7 separate regions of the Homo sapiens genome follow, and all the other regions are reported to be linked to region 1. Evidence: microRNA targets listed by miRTarBase, many of them from high-throughput screens and not tested one by one. Region 1 holds a microRNA gene; each other region holds the end of a gene's coding sequence.

Region 1 (4,453 bases):
AGAGGATTCTGGGAGCAAGGAGTTGGGCTTGCAGGCCTGTGTTCTTCCCTGGCCACACCCTCTACATCTTCCCAATAAATGGCCCAGTGTCACAGAACAGGCCGGAAATGAGGCCCCAACTCATTCTGCTTCCTGAGTTGGGGGTGGTGAAGGGCAAGGTCCAGCCTTATGATTCCCACTCCCCAGGGCCAGCCAAGTCTCGGGATGGTGAACGTACTGTCTATTGCAACGTACACAAGCATGAACCCCTTGTGCTGTTTTGTGAGAGCTGTGATACTCTCACCTGCCGAGACTGCCAGCTCAATGCCCACAAGGACCACCAGTGAGTCCCAAGGCATAGTGGTTGGGTGGGTGGGTGCCACCCCTTCCGTAGCTTAGTGCTCAGGAACACATCTGTCTGCTCTCAGGTACCAGTTCTTAGAGGATGCAGTGAGGAACCAGCGCAAGCTCCTGGCCTCACTGGTGAAGCGCCTTGGGGACAAACATGCAACATTGCAGAAGAGCACCAAGGAGGTTCGCAGCTCGTAAGTGTGGGTTCTGGGGCTGTGGGGGTGGCCCAGGGCAGCAAGACCCTACCTAGCCTGACCTGCTGTGTCCCCTAGAATCCGCCAGGTGTCTGACGTACAGAAGCGTGTGCAAGTGGATGTCAAGATGGCCATCCTGCAGATCATGAAGGAGCTGAATAAGCGGGGCCGTGTGCTGGTCAATGATGCCCAGGTAAGCCTTGTGCCGGTGAGAAGGGTCCCTGAGCCCCCTCTGCTGATTGATGATGCTGTCTGGGGTGAGGAGTGATCCTAGTATTCTTCTGCCTTCTCTGCTTACCTCATACACCTTCTATCTGCAGAAGGTGACTGAGGGGCAGCAGGAGCGCCTGGAGCGGCAGCACTGGACCATGACCAAGATCCAGAAGCACCAGGAGCACATTCTGCGCTTTGCCTCTTGGGCTCTGGAGAGTGACAACAACACAGCCCTTTTGCTTTCTAAGAAGTTGGTGTGTACTGGTGGGCTCCTGGCTGGTGGGTTCCAGGCAGGTGGTTCCCAATACCTCAAATCCCTATTTGTTGTTGGTGTGCTCATTCTTTCCTCCCTTTCACTCCCAACCAGATCTACTTCCAGCTGCACCGGGCCCTCAAGATGATTGTGGATCCCGTGGAGCCACATGGCGAGATGAAGTTTCAGTGGGACCTCAATGCCTGGACCAAGAGTGCCGAGGCCTTTGGTGGGTCCCCAGCTTTACCTCACTCTGTTATTACCCCACGTGCTGCACCTACTTACGTTTCTCTCTTCTTTTTGCAGGCAAGATTGTGGCAGAGCGTCCTGGCACTAACTCAACAGGCCCTGCACCCATGGCCCCTCCAAGAGCCCCAGGGCCCCTGAGCAAGCAGGGCTCTGGCAGCAGCCAGGTGAGCAGGAGAGAGGACCCAGGAAGGGGTGGGCAGGGAATGGGGTCCAGTAGCAGGAGAGAGGACCCAGGCAGGGGGGGTGGGCAGGGAATGGGGTCCAGTAGGGTTCCTGTCCCACTGAGGCAGAGGGTTCTGCTTTGTTCACAGCCCATGGAGGTGCAGGAAGGCTATGGCTTTGGGTCAGGTGAGTGGGTCTGCCTAGTGGGTGGGGAAGGGCCCCAGTGCTGTTTCTACCCCAACCTGCCAGTCTTCTTTCTCCATTTTCTAAGGAGATGATCCCTACTCAAGTGCAGAGCCCCATGTGTCAGGTGTGAAACGGTAAGTATGGCACCTCCCCTGGGGGTGAGGTGGATGGAGGGTGGGGGTGTACTCATGCCAGGTTGCTGCATCTACAGGTCCCGCTCAGGTGAGGGCGAGGTGAGCGGCCTTATGCGCAAGGTGCCACGAGTGAGCCTTGAACGCCTGGACCTGGACCTCACAGCTGACAGCCAGCCACCCGTCTTCAAGGTCTTCCCAGGCAGTACCACTGAGGACTACAACCTTATTGTTATTGAACGTGGCGCTGCCGCTGCAGCTACCGGCCAGCCAGGGACTGCGCCTGCAGGAACCCCTGGTGCCCCACCCCTGGCTGGCATGGCCATTGTCAAGGTAAGCCTGTCCCAAGGAACTATAGCTGTAGGATGAAGCCTGTAGTCCAGGTCTGGACCCTGTTGAACACCCCTCATCACCACCTTGCAGGAGGAGGAGACGGAGGCTGCCATTGGAGCCCCTCCTACTGCCACTGAGGGCCCTGAGACCAAACCTGTGCTTATGGCTCTTGCGGAGGGTCCTGGTGCTGAGGGTCCCCGCCTGGCCTCACCTAGTGGCAGCACCAGCTCAGGGCTGGAGGTGGTGGCTCCTGAGGGTACCTCAGCCCCAGGTGGTGGCCCGGGAACCCTGGATGACAGTGCCACCATTTGCCGTGTCTGCCAGAAGCCAGGCGATCTGGTTATGTGCAACCAGTGTGAGTTTTGTTTCCACCTGGACTGTCACCTGCCGGCCCTGCAGGATGTACCAGGGTGAGTGTGAGGCTGGTGGGGGTCAAGTCTGGGTGTTGGGCTGTCTGGACAGGATCATGTGCAGACCCTTATTTTCTTCACCCTAGGGAGGAGTGGAGCTGCTCACTCTGCCATGTGCTCCCTGACCTGAAGGAGGAGGATGGCAGCCTCAGCCTGGATGGTGCAGACAGCACTGGCGTGGTGGCCAAGCTCTCACCAGCCAACCAGCGGGTGAGGGCTGGGGTTACTTAGGTGGGGTTGCCCAGAGAGGCTTTATAGGTGCTGCCCAGAGCTGTGACATCCCTTACAATGTTTGTAGAAATGTGAGCGTGTACTGCTGGCCCTATTCTGTCACGAACCCTGCCGCCCCCTGCATCAGCTGGCTACCGACTCCACCTTCTCCCTGGTGAGTCCTAGGATGGGAAAGGGGAAGGGGGTGGTGGCTGCTGGGTCTCGCCCTCAACCTGTGCATGTATATGTGTGTCTTTGTGTGTGTATGTGTGATCTCTGCCTGCAGGACCAGCCCGGTGGCACCCTGGATCTGACCCTGATCCGTGCCCGCCTCCAGGAGAAGTTGTCACCTCCCTACAGCTCCCCACAGGAGTTTGCCCAGGATGTGGGCCGCATGTTCAAGCAATTCAACAAGTTAACTGAGGTGAGCCAGTGGAATGGAGAGGCTGTGGGCAGGGGGAGATGTGAAGGAAAGAACTAGGACCCATTCATCCACTGCATTCCTGCTTGGCCCAGGACAAGGCAGACGTGCAGTCCATCATCGGCCTGCAGCGCTTCTTCGAGACGCGCATGAACGAGGCCTTCGGTGACACCAAGTTCTCTGCTGTGCTGGTGGAGCCCCCGCCGATGAGCCTGCCTGGTGCTGGCCTGAGTTCCCAGGAGCTGTCTGGTGGCCCTGGTGATGGCCCCTGAGGCTGGAGCCCCCATGGCCAGCCCAGCCTGGCTCTGTTCTCTGTCCTGTCACCCCATCCCCACTCCCCTGGTGGCCTGACTCCCACTCCCTGGTGGCCCCATCCCCCAGTTCCTCACGATATGGTTTTTACTTCTGTGGATTTAATAAAAACTTCACCAGTTCCTCAGGCGTTGGCTGGTTGGGGGACTGTGGTCCTGGGGCCTGGTTTATTGACTGTATCTACTAGTCAGCCTTATCAAGCACTGGTGGCACAAGGGAGGGGGGTCTTGTCCCCCACCTATCGAAGCCCATGTGTATGGATGCCTAGGGAGTGGGGAAGACTGCCTCCTTGCCCTTTCTGGGTATGGGGAGGGTCACCCAGGGCAAAGGATGTACACACTAGAGGCTTGTTGGGTACCCTGTGGGATACTGGGTAGGTGTGACCTACATCCCTGTGTAGGCAGGGTTAGCCCCAGGTGTAGCACAGCCACTCTACTGAATGCTTCCTAAATTTTGGTGCTGTAGCTGTTTCTCATCTTCAGAAGGTCCCACAGTGAACTGAGACCTTCCAGATGTGGTTTTTTTCCCTGTCTCCCTTTGCTGAGTCCACTTAACATTATCATTCATCTCTGTGTTATGATTTAGTTACTCTACAGTCGAGCCTGTGTGAATCCCAAGGCCACCCCCTTGCCTCTATTGGTTGGTCTGGACTGTCCTTGAGTGTTGTCATTAAACCATCACTGGACCAAACAGTGTTGGACACTACAGCCTGGCAGATGAGGCCTGGACTCTCAAGATCCTACCAGGGTGTTTGGGCAGTCCAGTATCTTGGGAGAGGTGATGGAGAAGGGCCCACAGCTCACCTGAAGCTCCCAGCTCCTGAAAATCCCAGGTGGACTTTGCTTGTTCACCCCTGCCCCAAACCCCCACCCTTAGCTTAGTACCAAGTGCCTCTTGCCTTAGTGATGCCCATCCTCCCAGGGACCCCAGTCTGGTCCCACATCAGGCCAAAAGTCACATGGGCCTGGAGACTAGTGTCAAATCTCTTTTATTACAGAGGGGTTGTGGTAAAAGATCCTGGGCATCCACTGGTTATCTCGGAGTGGCAG
Region 2 (4,453 bases), not on the chromosome of region 1:
GGGAGGCCAAGGTGGGTGGATCACGAGATCAGGAGTTTAAAACCAGCCTGGCCAAGCTGGTGAAACCCTGTCTCCACTAAAACTATTAAAAAAAAAATTATCCGGGTGCAGTGGCAGGCGCCTGTAATCCCAGCTGCTCGGGAGGCTGAGGCAGGAGAATCGCTTGAACTCAGAGGGAGAAGTTGCAGTGAGCTGAGATCGCTCCACTGCACTCCAGCCTGGGTGATAGAGTAAGACTCAGTCTCAAAAAAAAAAAAAAAGAAAGAAAAGAAAAGAAAAAATGTTCCGTTTCATATCAGATTTTCATAGCTAGTACCAGAGAAGGGGTAATAAGCTGGAAAAGCTAAAGAATTGGATATTTTTTAATGCAAATTGTTGTTTTTCTTCATTTGTCTACTTTATTAAGCTGTCCTCAGGCCCCAAGAAACATACTGTCCCCTCATTTAGAAACAGACTAACTCCGTTTTCCTCCACTATCCCCTCCCCTGTCCTTGATCTGTAGATCCTGTTAAGACAGGAAAAACAGTGTTGGTCAAAGGGTACACGCTTTCAGTTACAAGATGAACAAGTTCTGAATACGTAAGATAGAACATGGGAGGTGATGTGGCCGGGTGCAGTGACTCACGCCTGTAATCCCAGCACTTTGGGAGGCCGAGGTGGGCGGATCATGAGGTCAAGGGATCGAGATCATCCTGGCCAACATGGTGAAACCCCGTCTCTACTAAAAATACAAAAATTAGCTGGGCATGGTGGCACACGCCTATAGTCCCAGCTACTTAGGAGGCTGAGGCAAGAGAATTGCTTGAACCCAGGAGGTGGAGGTTGCAGTGAGCCAAGGTTGTACCATTGCACTCCAGCCTGGCAACGGAGCAAGACTCCCTCACACACACACACACACACACACACAAAAATGGTGATGTGTTAATTGACCATGGCAATCATTACACAAATGTATGTGCATATCAAACCATGTTGTATACTTTGAAGAAAATAAAAAAACGACAGGAACAACAAACACATCCTTAACACTCAATCATTTTATCCCAGATTATGCTGAGTTCATGTCTCAGGGGAAACACCAAAATCCATGGAACTGCTCTCATTTTTTATCCCCTAAATGTCACTTTAACATAGGAAATGTCCATTGTGGGGTTATTTGCATTTAAACACAGGCCAATGAAAAAAGCTAAATTAAAACGTAATTATCAAGGTAATGGAAAGATATCCTAATCTCTTAATTAACAAGACTATCAGGAATATTTTGAATGTCCAATCACTCTAGGAGTCCCAATTCTCTTAAGGTAAGAACTTCAGGATTTAAACAAACTCAATGTGAAAATAAACATTTATTATAAAAATTAGTTTTGACATTTTAAAGTGAATGCAGACAAGGTGTTTTCCAGTTCAAAAGGTCCATTGTAAGCTAGAGAAGTAAATTCCAAGGCTGGCAATAACTGACTCATATTCTTCACAAGTGGCCTAGACAATAAGGAACCATTCACCTCAAATTCACAGAGCCATGAATCACCTCTGCTTCCCCATGACCTTTTCCATATCCTTCCTACTCTGTCTTCCAACCATGACACAGAACTGAAACATACTTTAAAAATCTCATCCTTGGCTAGGCACGGTGGCTCACATCTGTAATCCCATCACTTTGGGAGGCCAAGGCAGGCGGATCAAGAGGTCAGGAGTTTGAGACCAGCCCGACCAACATGGTGAAACCCTGTCTCTACTAAAAACACAAAAATTAGCCAGGCATGGTGGCACGCACCCGTAATCCCAGCTACTCAGGAGACTGAGGCAGGAGAATGGCTTGAACCCGGGAGGCGGAGGTTACAGTGAGCCAAGATCATACCACTGCACTCCAGCCTGGGTGACAGAGCGAGACTCCGTCTTTAAAAAAACAAAACAAAACAAAACAAAAAACAACAAACTCATCTTTACTGAACCATTTCATAAGCTCTACTTTATTTGTCTAGTTGGATTTCATTTCTTCTGGAAAATTTATTGTTTATTGGCATGTGACCCTTGACTGATGGCTTCATTAGCATTTTGTTTTTCTTTTTGGATCCTTAATAGAAAACTCAATTCTGTTAGGGATTTCCAAATAGGATAGGGCAAAGTCGCACTTAGTATATCCTCCACAGAAAGAAAGAAGCAAAATCAAGCCAAGAGGGCCCTTTACTTGTCCTCTTGCTAAGTTAATAAATAGACTGGTGGATGGTGGTAGATGGAGAAACAAAAATGTAAGGGCAGAGAAGGGTCCAAATGGGGAGGAAGAAAGCAATGACAGCCAGGCTGTCCGGCTCATTCCTGTTCATTCACATGCAGACCACCCATGATCTGGTCTTCAAATTTCTTCTGAATTCCACCCCACTAAATACAGTAGCAGTTACTACTTTAAACTACTACTAAAGCACTTGTTCTCCAAATGACCTGAGAAATCCCCTTGCCTCAGCTCTGGGACAGTAGTTCCTACAGCTGTAGGGAGGTCTGTTAATGCACCTGGCTGAACAGGAGGTACAAGAGTAAGTACCTTCTCTCACTTGGTGGAACAGGCCAAGGAGATCCCCCAAGTACAGCATCAGCTTCACCCTGTGTACCTTCCTCCAGCAAAGGAAGGCCTGGCCACAAGAGGGCTCTGGAATGAAGGCCTGAAATTCAGAAGCTCTGCCTTGAGATAAGAACCAGGAAGGGGCAGGACCAGGCACTGGGAACCAGCCCCAGGTTGCTGGGAAGCAAGGCTTTGAGGCATTTTCCTGTTGTACAAAGGAGCCTAGGAACCCTCAAAGACCTTTTCCCCTACTTACTTCCCACAAAAAAGAGCCTTGACAAACCAAGGTTTTATTTCCAGCAACATTCAGCTGATACAAACACATAGAAATACAATCTCACCAAAGAGCTAAGAAGCCCTCCAACACACGCCCAATTTCAGCATACAGCTAAGACTACACAACACACACACAAGCTCAACAAAGAGCTAAGACCACTACACACATCTCCACAGCACCACAGGCACATCTCAAAAGGGTCTGTCCAGTAGTTCCAGCCAAGGGAAGGGTGATGGCCTAAGCCACCAGCTCCAGCTTTCTTTTCTTTCTTTTTTTTTTTGAGCTGGAGTTTTGCTCTTGTTGCCAGGCTCCTGAGCAGCTGGGATTACAGGCATGCACCACTATGCCTGGCTAACTTTGTATTTTTAGTAGGGTTTCTCCATGTTGGTCAGGCTGATCTTGAACTCCTGACCTCAGGTGATCCGCCTGCCTCAGCCTCTGGGATTATAGGCGTGAGCCACTGCGCCCAGCCTCCAGTTTTCTTTTCTTTAGAGCAGCGGTTTTAAATCCTTTTGGCTTCAAGTTCTCTGAAAATTTACTATGCTCTCCACAACAAGAGCTCCCATTTTCCACAGACACAGTCAATGTCAGTCAGCTTGTATTCAGGAGGACAGGGCAGAGGGATCCCAGTGGCACTTCCCATGGGAAGACAGAAGAGAGTGGGCCCCAGAGATGGAAGGACCCCAGTGTCATCACCAAACAACCATTTCAGCCGCTCTAGCCTCTAATTCCCGCTCTAGAACAGCTGGCCCTGGTCGTCAGTACACAAGGAAAGAGCCCAGAACCAAGCTCAAGATACCTATTCAAAGATCCCTGCCAGCCAGGTGGGCAGTTGAGTGCAGATTCCTGCGACCCCCGCCATTTTTGCTGTCTACTTAGAAGGGAAGTCAATGGCATACCCAGGATTCCTTCCTGATCCCTCAAAGAAATGGGGAATAAACACTTTAAACAAGTTCCAGGCCACTCAGCAGTGGTAGGAAAGGGAGGGAGGGCATGAAGGAGGATGGGGCACATAGCTGACATTATTAAAAACACATCCGAAGAAGTAGGGGGCCCTGTGGGGTGTAGAAGACAAATAAGGCATCCTGTGAAACTACAGACATCAGGGGCCAGAGTCCGGTAGCACCTGAGTAAGGCAAATGCAGATGATAGGCGGTGAGCCGACCAGGCTCACACCAGGAATGACGAGGTCTGTTTGAATTCTCCCTGCAGAAATAAAACATCCAGTCAACTCTCAATAGTCTTCTTTAGCTGATAATCCCCAAAACACATAAACATGGGCTAGAAATCTCCTCACTCCAGCCCCAGGTGGCCCACCCCTGCCCAGGGGAGGCATACTCACTTCACTTCGGGCACTAGGCTGGCTGTAAATCACCTTCTTACTCGAAGTCCTGTGAACAAGCCAGAAGACAGAGACACTCAGCCACCTAGGTGCTTATTAACCTCCCCTTGCCAACTTTAAAGGCCAGAAGCGAGAATGCTACAGAAGCACAGAGTGCGCAGCAGACAGGTATGGGTGGGGTAACAGGACAGACCCAGGGCCAAGGCCACAGAGAAAGGGCTGGATATCCAAATGCCTTCCCTCCAAACTGGTTGCTTCTGCCTTCAACCCATTCCCC
Region 3 (4,453 bases), not on the chromosome of region 1:
ATCTGCCCTAGCCTCTCAAAGTGCTGGGATTACAGGAGTGAGCCACTGTGCCTGGCTTAATTTTCTTTTTTAAACTTTTTAAGAAACAAGATATCGCTGTTTGCCCAGAATGATCTGGAACTCCTGGCTTCCAGTGATCCTCCTGCCTCAGCCTCCCAAGTAGCTGGGATTATAGGCGTGACACTCTGCACCCAGCTCTTTCCTTCTTATACTCATTAATGATTTCTTGGTAATATGAAAACTTCATAATTAAAGTTCAATTAACCTGAATTATTATTAATTAATCTTCATGTTAATCCTCAATTCAGGTTAATCTTCAATTAAAAGAATATATCAACAATTAGTTCTTATGCATACAGCCAATGAATGACACTCAAGAAAAATAATAAAATGCATTATTTATAGATAATGAATATATCCAGAATTTTCCATTGGGCCAAACATTCCTTTTCCCAAGTTTCTCTGTTCTAGAGCAGTTTATCATTTCTTTTTTCTTTTTTTTTTTTTGAGACGGAGTCTCACTCTGTCGCCCAGGCTGGAGTGCAGTGGCGAGATCTCGGCTCACTGCAACCTCTTGCCTCCCAGGTTCAAGCAACTCTCCTGCCTCAGCCTTCCTAGTAGCTGGGATTACAGGCATGCACCACCACACCCAGCTAATTTTTGTATTTTTAGTAGAGATAGAGTTTCACCATGTTGGCCAGGCTGGTCTCAAACTCCTGACCTCAGGTGATTCGCCCGCCTTGGCATCCCAAAGTGCTGGGATTACAGGCATGAGCCACTGCACCCAGTGTTTTTTTCTCTTTTTTTTGAGTCAGAGTCTTTCTTGCTCTGTCACCCAGGCTGGAGTGCAACGGCACAATCGTAACTCACTGCAGCCTTGAACTCCTGGGCTCAGGCAATCCGCCTGCCTCAGCCTCCCCAGTAGCTGGGACTCCAGGCATGAACTACTATGCCTGGCTAATTTAAAAAAAAATTATTTTGTGGAGACAAGGTCTCACTTTGTTACCTAGGCTGGTCTTGAACTCTTGGGCTCAAGCAGTCCTCCTGCCTCAGCCTCCCAAAGTGCTGGGATTACAGGCATGAGTCAACCCACCCAGCTATCATTTCATATATAGGTACTTACTAAAATCAGTAAAAGAATCCCTAGGGACCAAAGCTCACCAAGCTCAATGCAGATTTATATCACTGTTGGCTCTAGGCTACACAAGGTCACAGACGCAGCTATGGCCCTGGGAGCTAGGCACTGGCAGGAATGAATATGGAAGGAATAAGGAAGAAATATGAGCTGTAGTAACGCTGGGGTAACATTCCAGAACCATCCACAACAGTGGGACTTACCTTTTTAAAAGACATATAATCTTTTGGGAGTCTCCCCAGGAAAATATATTTTGTTGTTGTTGTTGTTGTTTGAGACGGAGTCTCGCTCTGTTGCCCAGGCTGGAGTGCAGTGGCGCGATCTCAGCTCACTGCAAGCTCCGCCTCCCGGGTTCTGGCCATTCTCCTGCCTGAGCCTCCCAAGTAGCTGGGAATACAGGCGCCTGCCACCACGCCCGGCTAATTTTTTGTATTTTTAGTAGAGACGGGGTTTCACTGTGTTAGCCAGGCTGGTCTTGATCTCCTGACCTCAGGTGATCTGCCCGCCTCAGCCTCCCAAAGTGCTGGGATTACAGGTGTGAGTCATTGAGCCGGGCCTTTTTGTTTTGTTTTGTTTTTTGAGACAGTTTTGCTCTCGTTGCCCAGGCTGGAGTGCAACAGCGCAATCTCAGCTCACCGCAACCTCCACCTCCCAGGTTCGGCCTTCCAAAGTAACTGGGATTATAGGCATGCACCACCAAGCCCAGCTAATTTTGTATTTTTAATAGAGATAGGGTTTCTTCATGTGGGTCAGGCTGGTCTCGAACTCCCGATCTCAGGTGATCCGCCCACCTAGGCCTACCAAAGTGCTGGTATTACAGGCATGAGCCACTGCACCCAGCCAGGAAAATACATTTAAACTCAAACTACTGTATATATACTTCGTAGACTCCATGAAACCCATCCAGTGAATTCTTAGAGGTCCAAGACCCCTGATTAATAACTGTTGGCTGGGCGCGGTGGCTCACGCCTGTAATCCTGGCACTTTGGGAGGCCAAGGTGGGTGGATCACTTGAGGTCAGGAGTTCAAGACCAGCCTGGCCAACATGGTGAAACCCCCATCTCTACTAAAAATACAAAAATTAGCTGGGTGCGGTGGCGTGCACCTGTAGTCCTAGGAGGCCGAGGCAGGAGAATCGCTTGAACCTGGGAGGCAGAGGTTACAGTGAGCCGAGGTCGTGCCACGGCACTCCAGCCTGGGCAACAGAGTGAGACTCCGTTTCCAAAAAAAAAAAAAAAGAACTGTTGACCTATACTTCTACCAGATTCCCATTCCTCCTGCTGTCAAAGAGTCTGCAGCACCCCGCTTCCCACTTTCCTTCTCACACTTGGGGCTACACCAGTAGAGAGGTTGTATGTGCTTGAGAAGGTGGGAGTCTGCTCTGCCTGTGGCCTACTAAAGAGTCTATACTTCTTTAATTATTGCCCTTGTTTTTAGTATTTCAGGGTTGGTCCACAGGACTCAGGGAAGGAGAAAAAAGTATAAAAATTTCTTTTCTTATTACAAGAATTCCAAGATGTGTCAGAGTTGACCAGAAGCATAGAGAAAACTACATAGTCGAGTACCCACCAGGGGAATGTGGTAGAATTGGCAGTCTGTTGGTCTCTTTGTAATGTCAGATTAAAGAAATCACCTGGAGGCTGACATTGGCCCCTTCCCTTCCCAGGAGGCAGATCTGGCCTAAATACGGAGATGCGTACAAAGAAGACCTAGGATCACAATCGTTCTTAGCCATCAAACTCTTCTTCCAGGTCCTAGAGAAAGTGGCCACTCTATACCAAAGCCAAAGAACTGCAGAGTACTCCTCTTGGTTGGGGTTTCATATTGCTCTTGCAATTCAGTTTCCTCTCATCTTTGCTGTCATTTCGTGGGTACCAACAGCCTTGGCCAGGTGTGAGAAGTGTCCATTACTATTGTTTGCTCTGACTATCTTGCGCAAAGATGCCAAGTAAGGCTGGAGCAAAGGCCTTGGTGATACTCTTGCCTTGGACAGATAAATGGTGGTAGTGTAGCTAGTCCCTCAGTTGCACCTGTTTGTATTCCAAAGGCAGTAAACACAGATGTTCAGAAGCCCTTTATAATCAAGATGTCAAATATCTGAAATTATTCCCCAGCTCTGACAAAACTTGCCTTCTGGGTGTGGAGACAAAACAAGAATTTGTGACTACTGCTGATCACATCTAGAACTGCCTTGAGGCTGGCCATGAAGACTTGAAACCACAATTTTCACTGAGGATCTAAACCTCAGATCACATTTGTTTGGGGCTACTGTGGGGTAAGGGGATATTAAGGATGTAAAAGGGATGTTGCAAATGCTCATGAGACCAGGTTTTGTGGCACGCTAGGGCCACCACTAATTCTCCATGATGACTTCTCCACAGGACTTGCTTAAGCACAGGCACAGGACCCACCAATAATCAGATGTGCACTCTACACAGACTGCACCCACCGAGAACAGGTCACAGTCCTGTGACACAAACCCATATACACAACCGAGAGGTTGGCATTTTGGTCCATGCTTATTTAACAAATTCCCTTCTGCTGTGGGCACTAGGACAGGGGGCTGGCAATACTCAGATGAGCTGTCCCACCCCCAAGTCCAAAGCAGCAGCTCTCAGGCCTCCTCTGCTGCCTCATGCCATTCCAAACATGATGGCTGGGCTTACACACCTATCTTACTGGAAGCCTCCCTCTCTGTGTTCCCTTTCCACCACTATTCCATTACTTCCACAGGAGCTGGAGGCTGCCCCATCCACTCCAAGCCAGAGAACAAGCAGAGGCTGCCACAGGAGATCCTGGGCAAGTAATCAGCCACAGCATCTAGATTAGCATGAAGGAAACACTGGCCAAATTAAAAGATGAAACTTCCAAAAGGTAAATCTCTGTGTATTCATGCCTAATCTTCCAAGGTTGTGTAAATAATTTTTTTCTACCATCCCCCATCATTTGCATACATTTTTGTCAAGTCCAAACATAATTTGAAGTGAGGTAGGTAGTTTCTCTCTACTTGTGCCGTTGTCCTTGGGGTGATGTCGGGGCCTGTGCCCTGAACGCACTTGTCTCCTGTGCAGGGGCAGTGCCAGGGCTGGCATCAGTGGCTGGTGGAGCTTCTCAGTTGGCTATTTTCTCAATCTCGTCCAAATCATCTGTGTCCAATCTTTCTATCTTCTTATCTGGGGGAAAGATACACAGGTCTCTACCCTGCCCAGGAATGTGCCCCATCTTGGGCCACAGCAATCATTCATTCAGCCCCAAAGGCTCCGGGTGCCTAAGCAGGGGGCAGCAGGGCCCCTAGTCACTGACAGCAACAGTCAGAGC
Region 4 (4,453 bases), not on the chromosome of region 1:
ATCAATGACATGAAGGCAAAGGTTGCCTCCCTGGAAGAATCTGAGGGGAACAAGCAGGATTTGAAAGCCTTAAAGGAAGCTGTGAAGGAGATACAGACCTCAGCCAAGTCCAGAGAGTGGGACATGGAGGCCCTGAGAAGTACCCTTCAGACTATGGAGTCTGACATCTACACCGAGGTCCGCGAGCTGGTGAGCCTCAAGCAGGAGCAGCAGGCTTTCAAGGAGGCGGCCGACACGGAGCGGCTCGCCCTGCAGGCCCTCACGGAGAAGCTTCTCAGGTCTGAGGAGTCCGTCTCCCGCCTCCCGGAGGAGATCCGGAGACTGGAGGAAGAGCTCCGCCAGCTGAAGTCCGATTCCCACGGGCCGAAGGAGGACGGAGGCTTCAGACACTCGGAAGCCTTTGAGGCACTCCAGCAAAAGAGTCAGGGACTGGACTCCAGGCTCCAGCACGTGGAGGATGGGGTGCTCTCCATGCAGGTGGCTTCTGCGCGCCAGACCGAGAGCCTGGAGTCCCTCCTGTCCAAGAGCCAGGAGCACGAGCAGCGCCTGGCCGCCCTGCAGGGGCGCCTGGAAGGCCTCGGGTCCTCAGAGGCAGACCAGGATGGCCTGGCCAGCACGGTGAGGAGCCTGGGCGAGACCCAGCTGGTGCTCTACGGTGACGTGGAGGAGCTGAAGAGGAGTGTGGGCGAGCTCCCCAGCACCGTGGAATCACTCCAGAAGGTGCAGGAGCAGGTGCACACGCTGCTCAGTCAGGACCAAGCCCAGGCCGCCCGTCTGCCTCCTCAGGACTTCCTGGACAGACTTTCTTCTCTAGACAACCTGAAAGCCTCAGTCAGCCAAGTGGAGGCGGACTTGAAAATGCTCAGGACTGCTGTGGACAGTTTGGTTGCATACTCGGTCAAAATAGAAACCAACGAGAACAATCTGGAATCAGCCAAGGGTTTACTAGATGACCTGAGGAATGATCTGGATAGGTTGTTTGTGAAAGTGGAGAAGATTCACGAAAAGGTCTAAATGAATTGCGTGTGCAGGGCGCGGATTTAAAGTCCAATTTCTCATGACCAAAAAATGTGTGGTTTTTTCCCATGTGTCCCCTACCCCCCAATTTCTTGTCCCCTCTTAAAGAGCAGTTGTCACCACCTGAACACCAAGGCATTGTATTTTCATGCCCAGTTAACTTATTTACAATATTTAAGTTCTCTGCTTCTGCATTTGGTTGGTTTCCTGAAGCGCAGCCCCTGTGAATAACAGGTGGCTTTTCATGGATGTCTCTAGTCAGAGAAAAATGATAAAGGCTTAAATTGAGGATTAACAGAAGCAGATTAACCTCAGAAATCCTGTCTGGCTGGCAGATTTCAAGTAAAAAAAAAAAAAAGGTGGGTTGGGGGGACCCTTTTCTTTCTAGTTGTCTTTAAGGAAAATTAATTTTACTTTTTTTTTTGTTCTGGCCGAAATTTTTATGAGATATCTCTCACTTGTCTTCCACTTTGAACCGGTTAAAGCTCATAGCTGTCAGCTCTGAATGAGGAGGGGAGAAGCCCCTGGGTCTTTCTTTGAAAGGAATCCGCTGCTTGAGGGCTGCCTCCCTCATGGTGTGCGTGTCGTTTCTCTTCCTGACGCATCTTGTGATATCAGAGGTAACTATGCAAAGCATCCAGGCGGTTCTGAATGTGAAGCACTACACCCAGCAGAGTCCCGGTGCCCTCTGTCCCCACTGCCGGCCCATGTTCTCTCTCCGGAGGTCACCAAGGAATGCACAGGTTTCGACTACCAGAAAGGGGAGTCCTTGGGTTCTTTCAAAAAATTCGTGAGGAGAGCTGTCTACAGTGGAATAGGGGGTCTCCCTGGGGAATGCAGGCCAAGTCCTTTTATTTTAACATGATGTCCATGAAGAGGTTTGCCGTCTGGGCAGCCCTGTCGGCAAGGAGCGTGCATACTGCGTTTGTGTAATTGTTTGCTGTATCTCCCTTCCCTCTGAGCTGTATTGTTCTTTAATGGCTGTCTTGCCCTTCCAAAAAAAATTGAAAAAAAAAAAAAAAAAAAAACCCGAAAAGTAAAAAAAAAAAAAAAAAGTTTTGTTTAGTTTACTGTGAAATGAACTGTATGGCTTATTTACAGTATTTTTAATTCTTAATAAACACTTGAGCTTTGTTATGACTTTTCCAGAGTGGTTACATTCTGAGAATTTCGTAATTATGATGTGTTTTATTAGCACATGGTATAAACGATTAGCAAATAGGTAAGTTTACTATTTTAAGGCTGTTTTTTCTTTTAATTCTGAAACCGAGATGGCCTCACTCTTGGGCCGGGGACCTCCTTTGATGGACTGTTAGCAAGTGTGTTCAATGATTACTTGTCTCCAGCTCTGTTAGCTTCAAGCACAGGATCTCAACCCTCACTACCTATTAGAATCTTCCTAGGAGCTTTTAAAAAATGCCTGGGCCCTGCCCGCACAGATGCTGATTGAATAGGCATAAAGAGGCTGGCACTGTTTTTTTTTTTTTTTTTTTTGAGACAGAGTCTCGCTCTGTCACCCAGGCTGGAGTGCAGTAGCAGGATCTTGGCTCACTGCAAGCTCCGCCTCCCGGGTTCTGGCCATTCTCTTGCCTCAGCCTCCTGGGTAGCTGGGACTACAGGCGCTTGCCACCACGCCCGGCTAATTTTTTGTATTTTTAGTAGAGACAGGGTTTCACCGTATTAGCCAGGATGGTCTCAATCTCCTGACCTCGTGATCTGCCCGCCTCGACCTCCCAAAGTGCTGGGATTACAGGTGTGAGCCGCCATGCCTGGCCAGCACTGGTATTTTAAAGGCTCCCTCTCTGATTTTAATGTCCAGTCAGGGTTGAGAACCAGTGTCTCAGACCATCTGAGTGACCTTCAGCCCTAGTGCACACCTGGGCTTGTTTCCTTCTCTGGATTGCCTTCCACCCTCCACCCAATAAAAACCACATGCTGTTTATTGAGTACCTGTGTGCCAGGTCTTGTGCTCAGCATGCATAATAACCTGTTATTCCTTCTTACAGTCCCCCGAGGTAGGCAGTATCATTTCCCATTTCACAGAGGAACAGCAGGCTGAGAAGCTTCATACAAGGTCATTCATTACGAAGTGGCAGGGCTAAGCTTTGGACCTCATCCTTGCTCTAACTGGGACAGCATCCTCTACCGTCCACTGACACCAGTGCAGGTCCATTTGGCCTGTGGAATATCTGTCCTGTTCCAGAGCCCAAGGCTGCAAGAGATTTCTTCTTTCCCACCTAGGGAGTAGAGGGTGGCTAGGACCTGAGGTCCTGTGGCTTGATGTCCCCCTTTCTGGCTGAAAGGCCCCTCATCTCTGAATTGCTGTCAGTCACTCTGGGTCCCTCAAAGCTTCACAACTCAGAGCTGGAAGTTTTTTCCAAAGCAGTTAGCAAATCAGGACAGGCTCTGTAAATAATTTCTATTTTTATTTCAAAACCATTTTACTTTTTATTTTAAAGTCTTAAGTATTGACATGTATGCTTTAAATGGCTACTTTCACCCACTTGGGGAGGGTGCGGAACAGCATAAAGTCGCAGGCATGGAAAAAATTAAATTCATTTCCTTTTCAGGCCAATTGGTTGCATTGAGTATGTTCTTGCTGTTTCTCCTGTCATTTCTGCAGTTGCTCATCTCTGACTATGGAGTGGTTTAATAGATTCTCATTAATATTATAAAAGAAAATATTGACAAGTGTCTGATAAATATAAATTCAAGTGGTGAAAATAAAAGGAATATATTAGGAATTCACATATTTCTGATGGTGGGGCAGTTAGAGTTCTTACACCAAATAATGCAGCTCAGTCTTGTTTCTTCATTCAATATAGTGTTCATTCATTCAATAAACATTTATTGGGCTGATAGCCAGCCATTTTGCTAAGTATCAGTGAATTAAAATGTACAGGACTAGCCCAGTGGGAATGACAGTCATGTAAAGTGGTAGGTATTAGAAATACAGGTGCCATACTTGGGTGTATTGGGCCAAGAGGAAGGAGTGACCATTGTGCCATGGTTGGTCTAGAGGTGGTTAGAACAGGTTTTTGAAGGGCTGGGGGAAGTCCCTTGGAATGCTTTCATGAGTAATGGGAAGCTTCGGGAAACAGGTTGTTTTGCCCTTTGAACAAACAATATACACAAATTACTGAACATGTTGGTTAAATTGCAGATCCAGCACCAGGATAAGAGGCTGCAGTGAAACTTCTCAGGCAGGACTGACAGCACCCTGGTGAGGAGACTACTACACCACTGACCATGTGGCCTTGGGCAAGTCACTTAGAATGGTGATGGTGTTGATAATAGAGATGATGGTGGAGATGGAGATGATGATGGTGGTGATGAAGATGATGTGATGGTACAGGGTGGTTGTCAGGACTGAATGAGCGTGTTGAGGGGTTAGCACAGAATCTGGCACATCATAAGTGCTTCAGTGATCATGCGT
Region 5 (4,453 bases), not on the chromosome of region 1:
GAAACCCCGTCTCTACTAATAATACAAAAAAATTAGCCGGGCATGGTGGCGCATACCTATAATCTCAGATACGCAGGAGGCTGAGGCAGGAGAATCGCTGGAACCCAGGTGGCAGAGGTTGCAGTGAACCGTGATCAGGCCACTGCACTCCAGCATGAGTGACAGAGCAAGACTCCATCTCAATACAAAAAAAAAACAAACCAAAAAAAAAACAGATAATTCAATCAGGTGTGGTGGCTCATGCCTGTAATCCCAGCACTTGTGGAGGCCAAAGCAGGTGGATCACCTGAGGTCAGGAGTTCAAGACCAGCCTGGCCAACATGGTGAAACCCAGTCTCTACTAAAAATCCAAAAAAATTAGCTGGGCATGGTGGCAGGCACCTGTAATCCCCGCTACTTGGGAGGCTGAGGCAGGGAAATCGTTTGAACCAGGAAGGCAGAGGTTGCAGTGAGCTGATATCACACCATTGCACACCAGCCTGGGTGACAAGAGCGAAACTCCATCTCGAAAAAAAAAAAAAAAAATCATTCATCATGACCCAGTAGGATTCATCCCAGGGATGCAAGGATGGTTCAACAGGATGGTTCAACATAGGCAACTCAATCAATGTGATACATCGTGTCAACCGAAGGAAGAACAAAAGCCATCTGATCATTTCAATGGATGCTCAAAAAGCATTTGATAAAATTCAACATCCTTTCATGATAAAAACCCTCAAAAAACTGGGCAAAGAAGGAACATACTTCAACACACACACACAAAAGCCACATATAACAGACCCACAGCTAGTATCGTACTGAACAGGAAAAAAACTGAAAACCGTTCCTCTGAAATCTGGAACATGGTAAGGATGCCCACTTTCACCACTGGTATTCAACATAGTGTTGAAAGTCCTAGCTAGAGCAATAAGTCCTGAGAAAGAGATAAAAGGTATTCAAATTAAAAAGGAAAAAGTAAAATTATCCTTGTTTGCAGATGATACGATCTTATATCCGAAAAAACCTAGACACCACCAAAAAACTATTAGAACTGATGAAATAAGTAAAGTGGCAGGATACAAAATCAACATACAAAAACCAGGAGCATTTATTTATTTAGAGACAGGGTCTCACTCTGTCACCCAGGCTGGAGTTCAGTGGCATGATCATGACTCATTGTAACCTGCGCCTCTTGGGCTCAAGCGATCCTCCCACCTTAGCCTCTGGAGTAGCTGGGACTACAGGCATGAACCACCTCACCTGGCTAATTTTTATATTTTTTTTAGAGACAGGGTTTTGCCATGCTGCCCGGGCTGGTCTTGAACTCCTAGGCTTAAGTGATCCTCCTGCCTCAGCCTCCCAAAGTGTTGGGATTACAGGCGTGAGCCACTGCACGCAGACCAAGATTTGAAATTAAAGTACTTCGGAGTTGAATAAAAAATTGTCTGGCATTTGACCAAATGCAGTTTAAAAGTACACATTTGAAGAAGAGTTGAATGAGCATGAGATAAACAATGAATGAAAGGAAATAATTCAACCAAATATGAAAATCAAATTATTTTATTGTAAAAATTTATATAAAATAACTCATAAGGGCAACAGTTAAAAACAAGTTAAACAGAACTAACCAAATATATAAGATATTTCAAATAAAAAAGTAATAATAAAAGCCTTGCTAGCTTGTTTGAAAGTATATATAATACTTTATTTCCTAGACTTAAAATTGTGATTTCCATTACACTTAATTAGTATACAAAATATTATTTTTAAAAGACAGGTTCTCAAACTCAAGGATTAACAAATATTTGCAAAGTGATCACCAAAGTCTTTGTATATTTGTTAACAAAAACACAAATCCAGAATATAAAATCTATCTGAAATTATCTAAGCCAACATCAAATTATTTAAATATGACTCAGCTTGTATAAAGAGAAAATTAAAATCTTCCTTACATACAAAGTTTTGTACACAATGGGTTTTATCAGTACAGACTTTTTTTTTTTTTTTTTTTTTGAGACAGAGTTTTGTTCTTGTCGCCCAGGCTGGAGTGCAATGGCGCAATCTTGATCTTGGCTCACTGCAACCTCCACCTCCTGGGTTCAAGCAATTCTCCTGCCTCAGTCTCCTGAGTAGCTGGGATTACAGGCACCTGCCACCACGCCCAGCTAATTTTTGTATTTTTAGTAGAGACAGGGTTTCACCATGTTTTCACCACGTTGGGCAGGATGGTCTCAAATTTCTGCCTCATGGGTTCAGTAGAGTAGTAATCCCAGCTACTTGGGAGGCTGAGGCAGGAGAATGGCGTGAACCCAGGAGACAGAGCTTGCAGAGAGCCGAGCTTGCACCACTGCACCCCAGCCTGGGCAACAGAGCGAGACTCTGTCTCACAAAACAAAACAAAACAGAAACCCAGCCTGATCACTCCTGACCTCGTGATCCACCCACCTTGGCCTCCCAAAGTGCTGGGATTACAGGCGTGAGCCAACGTGCCCGATCTTTTTTTTTTTTGATACAGAGTCTCGCTCTGTCACCCAGGCTGGAGTACAGAGGCGCTATCTTGGCTCACTGCAACCTCTGCCTCCTGGATTCAAGCAATTCTCTTGCCTCAGCCTCCCGAGTAGCTGGAACTACAGGCACCTGCTACTTCGCATGGCTAATTTTTCTATTTTTAGTAGAGACAGGGTTTCACCATACTGGCCAGGCTGATCTTGAACTCCTGACCTTGTGATCTGCCTGCCTCGGCCTCCCAAAGTGCTGGGATTGCAGGGGTGAGCCACCACGCCCGGCCTCGTCAGTAAACATTTTTAAAAAACAAACCAAACCAGCCACCATTCCTTAAACTCTTTGTACAAATATGTGCTAGAAGCTAAAAGGACTTTTAATAATTTCAAGATTACATAAAGAAATACATTTTTTGTTGTTGAAATTACAAATACTTTTGCTTTTGAACTTATAAACACTTTTGGGATTCAGTCCAAAGCTTCTAGAGAACAGTTTTAATAAATACATTTAAATTTTTAGTAGAGATGGGGTCTCACTTTGCTGCCCAGGCTGCTCTCGAACTCCTGGGCTCAAGCAATCCTCTGTCCTCAGCCTCCCAAAGTGCTGGGATTACAGGTGCAGTTTCAATATTAATGTGGATTTTTTTTCCTCATTAAAAAAGGAAAGAATTCTATCTGAAAACCATACTTAACATAGAGTCCATTTTCTCCAGTAAGTTCTCCCTCAAAACCAGTCATAAGCTTTCACATATAAGCTCTTCCCACAACTATTTTGAAGAAAATTTGCTTCTGTACACGTTCTCCTTACTCATTTAAAATGAGATTTTGTAGTTATTTGGTGACAAACTATTATTTAGATGACTTTGTCCAAATATGTACTGATATCAGACAAAAAGTAAATATCTGCAAATATCTGAGGCTGTCTCAATTTAGACAATAAGAATTTTATTCACATGACTACTGAAGTTAACTGTTGATTCAAATAAGATGTTCTATGTTGATTAATGCCATTACTCCACAAATAGTCCCTTTTTCCAAAGCTACGTTCAAATTTCGTATGGCATGCATTTCACAATGAGGACCCGGATTCAGGGAGTAGGTTAGAAAGCCTATGATGAGTCATGACAAGCTGACTTTGACTAATAGTCATCCCATTAAAAAAATGAAAGCCACAAACATGGACAGAAACCAGTCATAGAATATTTTAGGATATAATGCATAGAATGATTCCCTCAAACAAATCAGTCCTCCAGAAGCACAGGATGAAAAGGATGTTTGGGAAATATTTTCTGTAAGGTCACCATATTAAAAATTATCCTATACCTATCTTTATTTTTTTCAGTCTTCCCAACAAAGAATCTGCTATATAATTTCTATTAACAGCTCTAAAAGATGGGGAAAATATTTTATCCTCAGGCAGACACTTTCAGTTTCTTTTTCTTGGCTTTCAGCACTGGAGGCAGAGAAATTTTAAAGGCTGTCCTGAAATTACAGAGAGGAAAACATTTTTTAATGTTCTAGAGCTGTGAAGTATTAGCCACCCACACAATCTCAAAGATACTTACTCGCACGTAGTACAAATGGGGCTGAAATTGCAGAATACTGTAAATTAAAAAAAAAAAGAAACAATAGGGTGGCTGAAAAACAACACAGCTGAGAAACTGTTTTCCTGCCCCCCAACATAGAAAAAAAAGAAAAACTAGGTACATTAACTTACTTGACAAACACACAGAACAGACATAACCAATTTCAATGAGATTTCGATGACAGAAGCAAGCAGCCCTGTAGTCAACATGAACTGGGGGTGGGAGGATTAACTGAGATCTCTGATCTTGATCGGGAAGAAACACCCACTGTAAAACAAACAAACAAAAGAAACTTTTATTTAAAACATGGGAAAAAAATAACATGAAGCCCACCCTTCTAGGCCTTGGAACTCCAAGGCCTCCATTTATTCCCTTCTCCTGAGTACT
Region 6 (4,453 bases), not on the chromosome of region 1:
TCCTCAGAGCCACCCATGCTATAGGTTGCCTTCCCCCTCCCCGATCTCGTGTCATATTTTCTATTCAGTTTTCCATTGATTTAACATCAAAAGTCATCTGGACATAGGCCAATTTCAAGTAACATTCGTATAAATTAAAATATTCTTAAATGCAGCTAAAAGGATTAGAATTATCCGAAGTAAACATGTTTACTTTTAAACTGTGTGTACTTTTACTTTTTTTTTTTTTTTTTGAGATGGAGTCTCGCTCTGTCGCCCAGGCTGGAGTGCAGTGGCGCAATCTCGCCTCACTGCAACCTCTGCCTCCTGGATTCTTCTCCTGCCTCAGCTTCCCGAGTAGCTGGGACTACAGGTGCATGCCGACACGCCTGGCTAATTTTTTTGTATTTTAGTAGAGATGGAGCTTCACCGTGTTTCCCAGGCTGGTTGCGAACTCCTGAGCTCAGGCAATCCGCCTGCCTCAGCCTCCCAAAGTGCTGGGATTACAAGCGTGAGCCACTGCGCCCAGCCAGAATTTGAATCTTAATACAAGAACTATGCAATTTTCAGTGGAAATTTTAAGTCTTGTAGCAGGGCTATGGAGTAAGCATTGTAAATATGATCAAAGAGATGAACACATCTTGCATAAAGTATCAATAATCTGGGTGGTATATTACTGCTTAAATGGATGGATCCCAGCAATATCCATTGCAATAAAATTTAACCAAAATGTTTCTGGAAGTTTCTTGGCCATCTGTTACAATAGTATCCAATCTAGAGTATCTATAAAAAGGAATGTTACTCCCTTTCATGCTTTTTTTGGCCTCAAATGCCAGAACCTTTCGAATTTGAGAATTTTCTGAGTCTTATCAAAAACAGGATGAGGAGATAAAAACAGAGTTCTGACTCTGTATTCTTTTCAGACTCTCAGAAAAGTGTCTGGATTGAACACAAAAAATTTAGGCTTATCAGGTCACTTTATTGCAGCAGTAACACTTCATTCAGAAATTAGAAAGGATTTAGTTTGACTAGATTAAAGCACAAATTTTTATATTAGTATTTTTCATTTTCTTTGTGCATTTTAAACTTTTAGAACTTTTCCCACAAAAAACATAGTACTAAATATGCATTTATGGAATTTAGCATCTTACGTTTATACTTTTTCTTCTTAATTTTATATTATTATAGCAGAGTATTCTCCGTATGAGTCTATTACAATAGAACTTTTTCAGTGTTATAGATCCAGTTTGATTCATTCCATTAAACTGAAAACTACATATGTGAAGTTTAATATACAAACACATATGCTGAGATCTAAGTTATATATACTTGTCACTGCTGTTTTAATATGGAAACTAACCAAGCAATTTCTTTTAGTTTCAGATGATCACTTTTTTCCTAAAATCAGCCAAATTTTGAAAAGAAAAACACTGTAGAGGTCTTTACAGAGTAAAGTTTTCATTTTTAAATTACTTTCTGTAAAATTGGGGAGAAGGTGTTTTGAGGGGAGTCTGTGCTAAAACTTAAAACAAAATTTAACATTTATTTTTTGTTTTTGATTTTCTTTTACAGACAGGGTTCTGCTCAGTTGAACAGGCTAGAGTACAGTGGCATAGCTCACTGCAGCCTCCATCTCAAGGCTCAAGCAATCCTTCCACTACCTCAGCCTCTGAGTAGCTGGGGCTACAGGTGGGCACCATCATGCCTGGCTAATTTTTAAATTTTTTGTAGACACAGGGTCTCATTATGTTACCCAAGCTGGTCTTGAACTTCTGGGCTCAAGTGATCCCCCTGCCTTGGACTACCAAAGTGCTAGGATTACAGGCATGAGCCACTATGCTTGGCCTAATTTTTTTTTTTATTTTTAGTAGAGACAGGATCTTGCTATGTTGCCCAGGCTGGTCTCAAACTCCTGGGCTCAAGCAATCTTCCCTCCTCAGCCTCCCAAAGTGCTGGGATTATAGGCGCAAGCCACCTTACCCAGCCAAAATTAACATTTATAATAGTGGGTTTGATGATTGGTCTTAGTAGTATGTTTTGTTGAACTTCTCAAAAATGAGAAAGTAACGTTTTATATAACTGGACATGACTGAATGAAATCATTTTCTAAAAGCTTATAATAAGGACATGAAAGGGTAGTATGGTCAAAATGTAGATTTTTTTTCCTGCAAAAGAACCATCCACAGGCAAATTATCTAAGTCCCCTGAATATGAAATATGACACTATTAGAAGTGGTAAGGTGCAACTGCATGTATGACAAAGTAAGTTGCTGAATGTCTTCACAATCAAAAGCACTAACTTTTAAAGGCCTCAAGTACTAAAGCATAATTTTAGGGATAGAGGAAAGTGTTCTTGTTTTTGTAAATGAGTATGGGTCATGGCATGACTTTGGTTTTATTTTGGGTCCTCAAACTGAGAGCTTTCTTATGATAATCTGTATATAAATAGCAAAAAAAAACAATGGGAATGTTCATAGGATAAATAATATGAGTGCAAATTTTTGCCAGAAAGTTCTGGAAATGTAGGACTTGGTTCTTTTTATAAGTGCTTTTAACCTTTTCAGACTCATTAATTTCATAAACCAATTTAAGCAATTATTTCTATCAGCTACAGATATTTTCTTCACAAATATAAAGGGTTTTGCTCCCCTCCCCATCCTCCAGCCTCCACCAATTTGTGCCTGTAACTGCCACTTGATAGCTGCTCAGTAAGACTTTAAATATCAGGTTCTAGTGCCAACAAATCCAGAAGTCAGAAAAATTCTAAGTTACAATCGCCAGAATATCTTTCATGCATTCTATTTTACTTTATTGTTACAGTTTAAACAAATTCAGAAACGTGGGGTGTTTCTGGCTACTTGAGTAAAACGCACTGCAAACGCAAAGGGAACAACGCTGTAAACTTAAATGATTTCTGAACAGCTCAGGATCCTCCTGGAGGGGATCCTTTTCATCTCACATATTGATTCTGAACACTATGTTAGCACCTGCTCCCAGAAGGTCCCTTGACACTGGAGCAAGTCAGAATATCTTAATATCATAGCTTATTTAACAGCAGGAAAGCAACTTTAACATAGACTTGAGGTTTAGGTAGATCTGGTATTATCTAGAACCCAGGCTTAAATTTTGCAAAAAGTTTCCAAAGAGCATAAGAAAGTAAAACAGAGGTACCAGAACTGAAGACATCATTAACAAACAAAATATTTCCACTCCTAACCAAACTGCAACCCTTTCAGTATAGCCTGAGGTATTTTTAAACATTTGTACAAGCTAAAGATCATTCACAGTTTCCAAAGCTGCTTTTTACTGAGATAGCTTCAAATTTTCACAATATGTGACTTTCAGACGTTTTCATATACCAGAGTCTCTGCCCTCAGACTCATGGAAACATCAGAGATATTTAGTGGCAGAAAATGGTTCTTCTAGTGATAAGGGTTCTATTTCCCAATTATTGTGCTATTCCTAGGATGTGATTAAAAAAATATGAAATTTGCAATTTGTATAAAAGGAAAGGAAACTTGCTTAAAATTCAAAAAGCAAGTCCAGTCTGGTGGAGGTATGTAAGATATTAAATAATAGAGTCAGATTCTTTCTTGAACATTCCAGATGAACTTGACAGCAGAGAGTTCTGGTTTTCCAACATTTTCTCCATCTTTTCTTTTCCAGTGGTTTTACTGATCTCTCTTTGCTTCTTACTATGGATCCACGGGATAAAACAAAGCACAGCACCTCCAATAAGGGGAGGGACTCCAGCGAGGTAGAATGCCACATCATAGGAGCCCAGTTTGTCACGAAGTAACCCTGAGAAGGGAAAAAGCTGTCACCAAGGGAGAACAAGTGTGGCTCTGTAGGGGGTCTAGATCAGCCACAGGACTGATTCAGACATCTCAGACATCAGACTTTTTTTTTTTTTTAGGAAACAGATCTGAAATATAAACCCTTTTTGATAGGAAGAAAAAGATCTCATATCTTTAACGTTGTCATAAAGTACAGTCCTCTGGATTTTCATACCAAGACATTACTTGAAAAGATAGAAAGGTAGACGTTTTTTTTTTTTTGAGACAGGGTCTCACTGTGTCACCCAGGCTGGAGTGCGGTAGCATAATCATGGCTCATGCAGGCCTTGACTTCCCAAGCTCAATTGATCCTCCCAGCTCAGCCTCTTGAGTAGCTGGGACTACAGGTGCATGCTACCATGCCTGGCTAATTTTTATATTTTTTGTAGAGATGGGGTTTTGTCACATTACCCAGGCTGGTCTCAAGCTCCTAGGCTAAAGCAATCCTCCCACCTCAGCCTCCCAAAATGCTGAGATTACAGGCATGAGCCACCATGCCCAGCTTTCAAACTACTCTTTGGTGTATTTGTTTTTTATGAAATAACATGAAAACTATTTAACATCATAATTCAAAATTAAGAAAAATTTTAAATTTAATAATTTGGATGAAAGTTAGGTTGTTAAATACATTTTGGAAA
Region 7 (4,453 bases), not on the chromosome of region 1:
GAGAGTGTAACTGTTTCCTCTACTCCCCAGGCCTCTTTGGCTTTGTGATCCTCTCCCTGCTGCTGGTGCCCATGTACTACATCCCCGCCGGCTCCTTCAGCGGAAACCCTCGTGGGACACTGGAGGATGCATTGGACGCCTTCTGCCAGGTGGGCCAGCAGCCGCTCATTGCCGTGGCACTGCTGGGCAACATCAGCAGCATTGCCTTCTTCAACTTCGCAGGCATCAGCGTCACCAAGGAACTGAGCGCCACCACCCGCATGGTGTTGGACAGCTTGCGCACCGTTGTCATCTGGGCACTGAGCCTGGCACTGGGCTGGGAGGCCTTCCATGCACTGCAGATCCTTGGCTTCCTCATACTCCTTATAGGCACTGCCCTCTACAATGGGCTACACCGTCCGCTGCTGGGCCGCCTGTCCAGGGGCCGGCCCCTGGCAGAGGAGAGCGAGCAGGAGAGACTGCTGGGTGGCACCCGCACTCCCATCAATGATGCCAGCTGAGGTTCCCTGGAGGCTTCTACTGCCACCCGGGTGCTCCTTCTCCCTGAGACTGAGGCCACACAGGCTGGTGGGCCCCGAATGCCCTATCCCCAAGGCCTCACCCTGTCCCCTCCCTGCAGAACCCCCAGGGCAGCTGCTGCCACAGAAGATAACAACACCCAAGTCCTCTTTTTCTCACTACCACCTGCAGGGTGGTGTTACCCAGCCCCCACAAGCCTGAGTGCAGTGGCAGACCTCAGCTCTCTGGACCCCTCCTACAGCACTAGAGCTAAATCATGAAGTTGAATTGTAGGAATTTACCACCGTAGTGTATCTGAATCATAAACTAGATTATCATAGTTATCTAGTTTATGAGTCATAAGCTAGATTTGATTCTTCAAAGAAGAAAAGTCAGTGAGCAAATTTAAACCAGAACTAAGCATTATATTTTCTTTTTTTTTTTTTGAGACAGAGTCTCGCTCTGTCGCCCAGGCTGGAGTGCAGTGGCACGATCTCGGCGGCTCACTACAACCTCTGCCTCCCAGGTTCAAATGATTCTCCTGCCTCAGCCTCCCGAGTAGCTGGGATTACAGGTGCATAACACACCTGGGTAACTTTTATAGAGATGGGGTTTCACCATGTTGGCCAGGCTGGTCTCAAACTCCTGACCTCAGGTGATCTGCCTGCCTCGGCCTCCCAAAGTGCTGGGATTACAGGCGTGAGACACCACACCCAGCCATAACTAAGCATTATGTTTTCTAAAACTTCTAAGATCCTCCCTAAACCCGTCTGGAGACATGGGTTTTAGCCCAGACTCTGCCTCAAACTCATTGTAGCTCCCAGCACATTACCCAGTTGCTCTGGGCCTTGGTGTTATGCTCTGGGAAGTAGATGTTGATGCTGTGGCCTTAGTGCCTTCTGGCCCCAGCATTCCATGGGCCTGTGATCTTGACCAACCTGAGAAAACAGTAACAGCCCATCCACTGGAAATACCCCTCTGCCCACAGCACCACCCTTCTGTGCTGTTTTTTTTGTTGTTTGTTTGTTTCTTCTTTTTGAGACAGAGTCTTGCTCTGTTGCCACGCTGGAGTGCAGTGGTGTGATCTCGGCTCACTGCAACCTCCCGCTCCCAGGTTCAAGCAAGTCCCCTGAGTAGCTGGGACTACAGGCGTGTGCCACCACATCCGGCTAATTTTTTGCATTCTTTAATAGAGACGGGGTTTTGCCATGTTGGCCAGGATGGTCTCAATCTCCTGACCTCATGATCCACCTGCCTCAGCCTCCCAAAGTGCTGGGGTTACAGGCATGAGCCACCACGCCCAGCCTTTTTTTTTTTTTTTTTTTTTTCTTGAGAGACAGGGTCTTGCTCTGTCACCCAGGCACAGCTTACTGCAGCCTTGAACTCCTGGGATCAATCAGTCCTCCTGCCTCAGCCTCCCGAGTAGCTAAGACTAACAGGTATGTACCACCATGCCTGGTTTATTGTTTTATTTTTTTGGCAGAGATGGGTCTCACTGTGTTGCCCAGGCTGATCTCAAACTCCTGGCCTCAAGCGATCCTCCCATCTCAGCCTCCCAAAGTGCTGGGATTACAGACCTGAGCCACCACACCTGGGCAACAGAGTGAAACCTGTCCCTGTTTTCCTGCTCTTACTCTCACCTCTGAGGCCTCCTCTGCCTGGAAGAGATTACAGGGAAATTCCAGGCAGCCCTTGTCAATTGTTTTTATGAATTCTTTACCTGTTCCTTTTAAAGACAAGGAAACTGAGGCCCAAAGTTCTAAGTTGTTTGGCAAATGGAGTCTCCTACCCTCAGCTCCTGCAAGGACCTGGGGGACCCCCAGGTCCAGCAGCCACATGATTCTGCAGCAGACAGGGACCTAGAGCACATCTGGATCTCAGCCCCACCCCTGGCAACCTGCCTGCCTAGAGAACTCCCAAGATGACAGACTAAGTAGGATTCTGCCATTTAGAATAATTCTGGTATCCTGGGCGTTGCGTTAAGTTGCTTAACTTTCATTCTGTCTTACGATAGTCTTCAGAGGTGGGAACAGATGAAGAAACCATGCCCCAGAGAAGGTTAAGTGACTTCCTCTTTATGGAGCCAGTGTTCCAACCTAGGTTTGCCTGATACCAGACCTGTGGCCCCACCTCCCATGCAGGTCTCTGTGGGGTCTTTGGGATGGATCTCCTAGGGCTGGGCTGGAAGCCTCATGTACTGTTGTCTTCTAGGTAACCACCCTGAAGAGAAGGGGTGGCATCAGGAACCGCAGGGAACCAAGCAGCCTTTGGTCCAGTGCTGCTCCTTGGAACAGTTGAGTGTGGCCTCAAACCATTCTCCTGGGTAGCTCAGTCATAAAACACCGAATGCCTGCCTCAAAATAGCCTCTGAGGGAAGGGAGCTGTTGACAAGTGAAGCCCTCAGGTTGTGTGGGATTCCAGCAGGTTATTACAGCTTGTGGGGGGAGGGAGGGTCCATTCCACCAGCTTTGAATCCCAGGGTCCCCTCAGCTTCACTGGGCCACAGTGTCTGTCCCAGGAAGAAGCAAATGGACAGTGAGGATGATGGAGAGACTACAGCTGCCTTGTCTAAAACCTGGGATCTTAAAAGTGTTATTTTGGCTTTTATTTTTTAAAAAAAGAAAAGGAAAATTGGCAATTGTATTAATCCATTCTCGAATTGCTGTAAAGAAATACCTGAGACTGGGTAATTTAATTTATAAAGAAAAGAGGTTTAATTGGCTCACAGTTCTGCAGGCTATACAGGAAGCATAGTAGCTTCTGCTTCTGGGGAGGCCTCAGGAAACTTACAATCATAGTGGAAAGGCAAAGGGGAAGCAGACACATCTTATGTGGCCAGAGTAGGAGCAAGGGGGCGCAGGAGGAGGTGCCACACACGTTTTAAACACCCAGATCTCACAAGAACACTCAAGAGGACAGTACCAAGTGGAATGCTGTTAAACCATTCATGAGAAATGCACCCCCATGATCCAGTCACCTCCCACTAGGCCCCACCTCCAAGATTGGGGATTACATTTCAATATGAGATTTGGGTGGGGACACACATCCAAACTATATCAGCAGTACTGGACATTTTTCATGAGAGAGAAGGGGCACAAGAGGATGTCTGGAGCTAGCCTCTAGAATGTTGGTGTGGAAAATCTCTCCAATGTTTGAAAAGCATACCAATTACCTAGTCCTCCATTCATTGTTCAAATGAAGAAACCCAAAAAGCAGAAGTAACTTCCCAAGGGTCACACAGTCAGTTAACAGGCAAAAGCCAGATGTCCTGGTTCTCAATCCTCGCCTGTCCCATTCTGCCACAGATACTGCAGCCAGAGGCCAGGCATGGTGGCTCACGCCTGTAATCCCAGCACTTTGGGAGGCCGAGGTGGGTGGTTCACCTGAGGTCAGAAGTTCGAGACCAGCCTGGCCAGCATGGCAAAACCCTGTCTCTAGTAAACATACAAAAATTAGCTGGGCATGGTGGCACAAGCCTGTAATCTCAGCTACTCAGGAGGCTGAGGCAGGAGAATCACTTGAACCCGGGAGGCAGAGTTTGCAGTGAGCCAAGATCACGCCACTGCACTCCAGCCTGGGCAACAGTGAGACTCAGTCTCAAAAAAGAAAAAAAAGCTTAAAAATAAAGATATAAACCGGGTGCGGTGGCTCACGCCTGTAATCCCAGCACTTTGGGAGGCTGAGGTGGGTGGATCACGAGGTCAGGAGATCGAGACCATCCTGGCTAACACGGTGAAACCCCGTCTCTACTAAAAGTACAAAAAATTAGCCGGGCATGGTGGCGGGGGCCTGTAGTCCCAGCTACTTGGGAGGCTGAGGCAGGAGAATGGTGTGAACCTGGGAGGCGGAGCTTGCAGTGAGCCGAGATCGGGCCACTGCACTCTAGCCTGGGCGACAGAGTGAGACTCCGTCTCAAAAAAAAAAAAAAAAAAAAAAAGATATAAAGAAAAAATGT

The links. The annotated mature microRNA hsa-miR-6807-5p reads GUGAGCCAGUGGAAUGGAGAGG and lies in region 1 at 3,096-3,117, shown strand. An mRNA with a match to its seed (bases 2 to 7 or 8) in the 3' UTR can be bound and repressed. Matches are read on the target gene's strand: a 7mer-m8 pairs with bases 2 to 8, a 7mer-A1 pairs with bases 2 to 7 and ends in A, and an 8mer does both.
Region 2: miRTarBase lists F11R as a target of hsa-miR-6807-5p. Seed matches in the 3' UTR shown: 7mer-m8 at 3,288-3,294, 7mer-m8 at 1,843-1,849 and 7mer-m8 at 829-835.
Region 3: miRTarBase lists DDX19B as a target of hsa-miR-6807-5p. The part of its 3' UTR that is shown has no 7-base or 8-base seed match.
Region 4: miRTarBase lists CKAP4 as a target of hsa-miR-6807-5p. The part of its 3' UTR that is shown has no 7-base or 8-base seed match.
Region 5: miRTarBase lists GTF2H3 as a target of hsa-miR-6807-5p. Seed matches in the 3' UTR shown: 7mer-m8 at 2,749-2,755 and 7mer-m8 at 2,457-2,463.
Region 6: the mRNA of SLC16A10 is a reported target of hsa-miR-6807-5p. Seed matches in the 3' UTR shown: 7mer-m8 at 1,807-1,813 and 7mer-m8 at 492-498.
Region 7: miRTarBase lists SLC35F6 as a target of hsa-miR-6807-5p. The part of its 3' UTR that is shown has no 7-base or 8-base seed match.

What each region holds. Positions count from the first base shown.
Region 1 is chr19:58,547,190-58,551,642 of GRCh38, forward strand. MIR6807 (microRNA 6807) reads left to right here and starts at 3,096; the gene lies at 3,096-3,187. TRIM28 (tripartite motif containing 28) reads left to right here. Exons shown (of 17, transcript NM_005762.3): 4 at 187-322; 5 at 408-524; 6 at 603-717; 7 at 845-991; 8 at 1,105-1,219; 9 at 1,297-1,403; 10 at 1,551-1,587; 11 at 1,673-1,721; 12 at 1,799-2,051; 13 at 2,142-2,461; 14 at 2,548-2,671; 15 at 2,760-2,846; 16 at 2,958-3,095; 17 at 3,188-3,526. The coding sequence ends at 3,364. CHMP2A (charged multivesicular body protein 2A) reads right to left here. Exons shown (of 6, transcript NM_014453.4): 6 at 4,377-4,453.
Region 2 is chr1:160,994,867-160,999,319 of GRCh38, forward strand. It overlaps F11R (F11 receptor), which reads right to left. Exons shown (of 10, transcript NM_016946.6): 9 at 4,177-4,225; 10 at 345-4,040. The coding sequence ends at 4,005. Among named protein-coding and RNA genes, the nearest start is that of F11R, 24 kb to the right of the region's middle.
Region 3 is chr16:70,333,376-70,337,828 of GRCh38, reverse strand. DDX19B (DEAD-box helicase 19B) reads right to left here. Exons shown (of 12, transcript NM_007242.7): 12 at 2,524-4,308. The coding sequence ends at 4,247. It overlaps DDX19A-DT (DDX19A divergent transcript), which reads left to right. Exons shown (of 5, transcript NR_039997.1): 3 at 3,869-4,009. Among named protein-coding and RNA genes, the nearest start is that of DDX19A-DT, 11 kb to the left of the region's middle. RefSeq lists an enhancer at 4,050-4,453.
Region 4 is chr12:106,235,585-106,240,037 of GRCh38, reverse strand. It overlaps CKAP4 (cytoskeleton associated protein 4), which reads left to right. Exons shown (of 2, transcript NM_006825.4): 2 at 1-2,157. The coding sequence ends at 1,014. Among named protein-coding and RNA genes, the nearest start is that of CKAP4, 10 kb to the left of the region's middle.
Region 5 is chr12:123,659,675-123,664,127 of GRCh38, reverse strand. It overlaps GTF2H3 (general transcription factor IIH subunit 3), which reads right to left. Exons shown (of 13, transcript NM_001516.5): 11 at 4,198-4,333; 12 at 4,046-4,082; 13 at 1,524-3,962. The coding sequence ends at 3,893. Among named protein-coding and RNA genes, the nearest start is that of TCTN2, 9.2 kb to the left of the region's middle. RefSeq lists an enhancer at 3,591-4,453.
Region 6 is chr6:111,221,330-111,225,782 of GRCh38, reverse strand. It overlaps SLC16A10 (solute carrier family 16 member 10), which reads right to left. Exons shown (of 6, transcript NM_018593.5): 6 at 1-3,780. The coding sequence ends at 3,548. Among named protein-coding and RNA genes, the nearest start is that of SLC60A2-DT, 36 kb to the left of the region's middle.
Region 7 is chr2:26,778,012-26,782,464 of GRCh38, forward strand. It overlaps SLC35F6 (solute carrier family 35 member F6), which reads left to right. Exons shown (of 6, transcript NM_017877.4): 6 at 31-3,220. The coding sequence ends at 500. Among named protein-coding and RNA genes, the nearest start is that of CENPA, 5.8 kb to the right of the region's middle.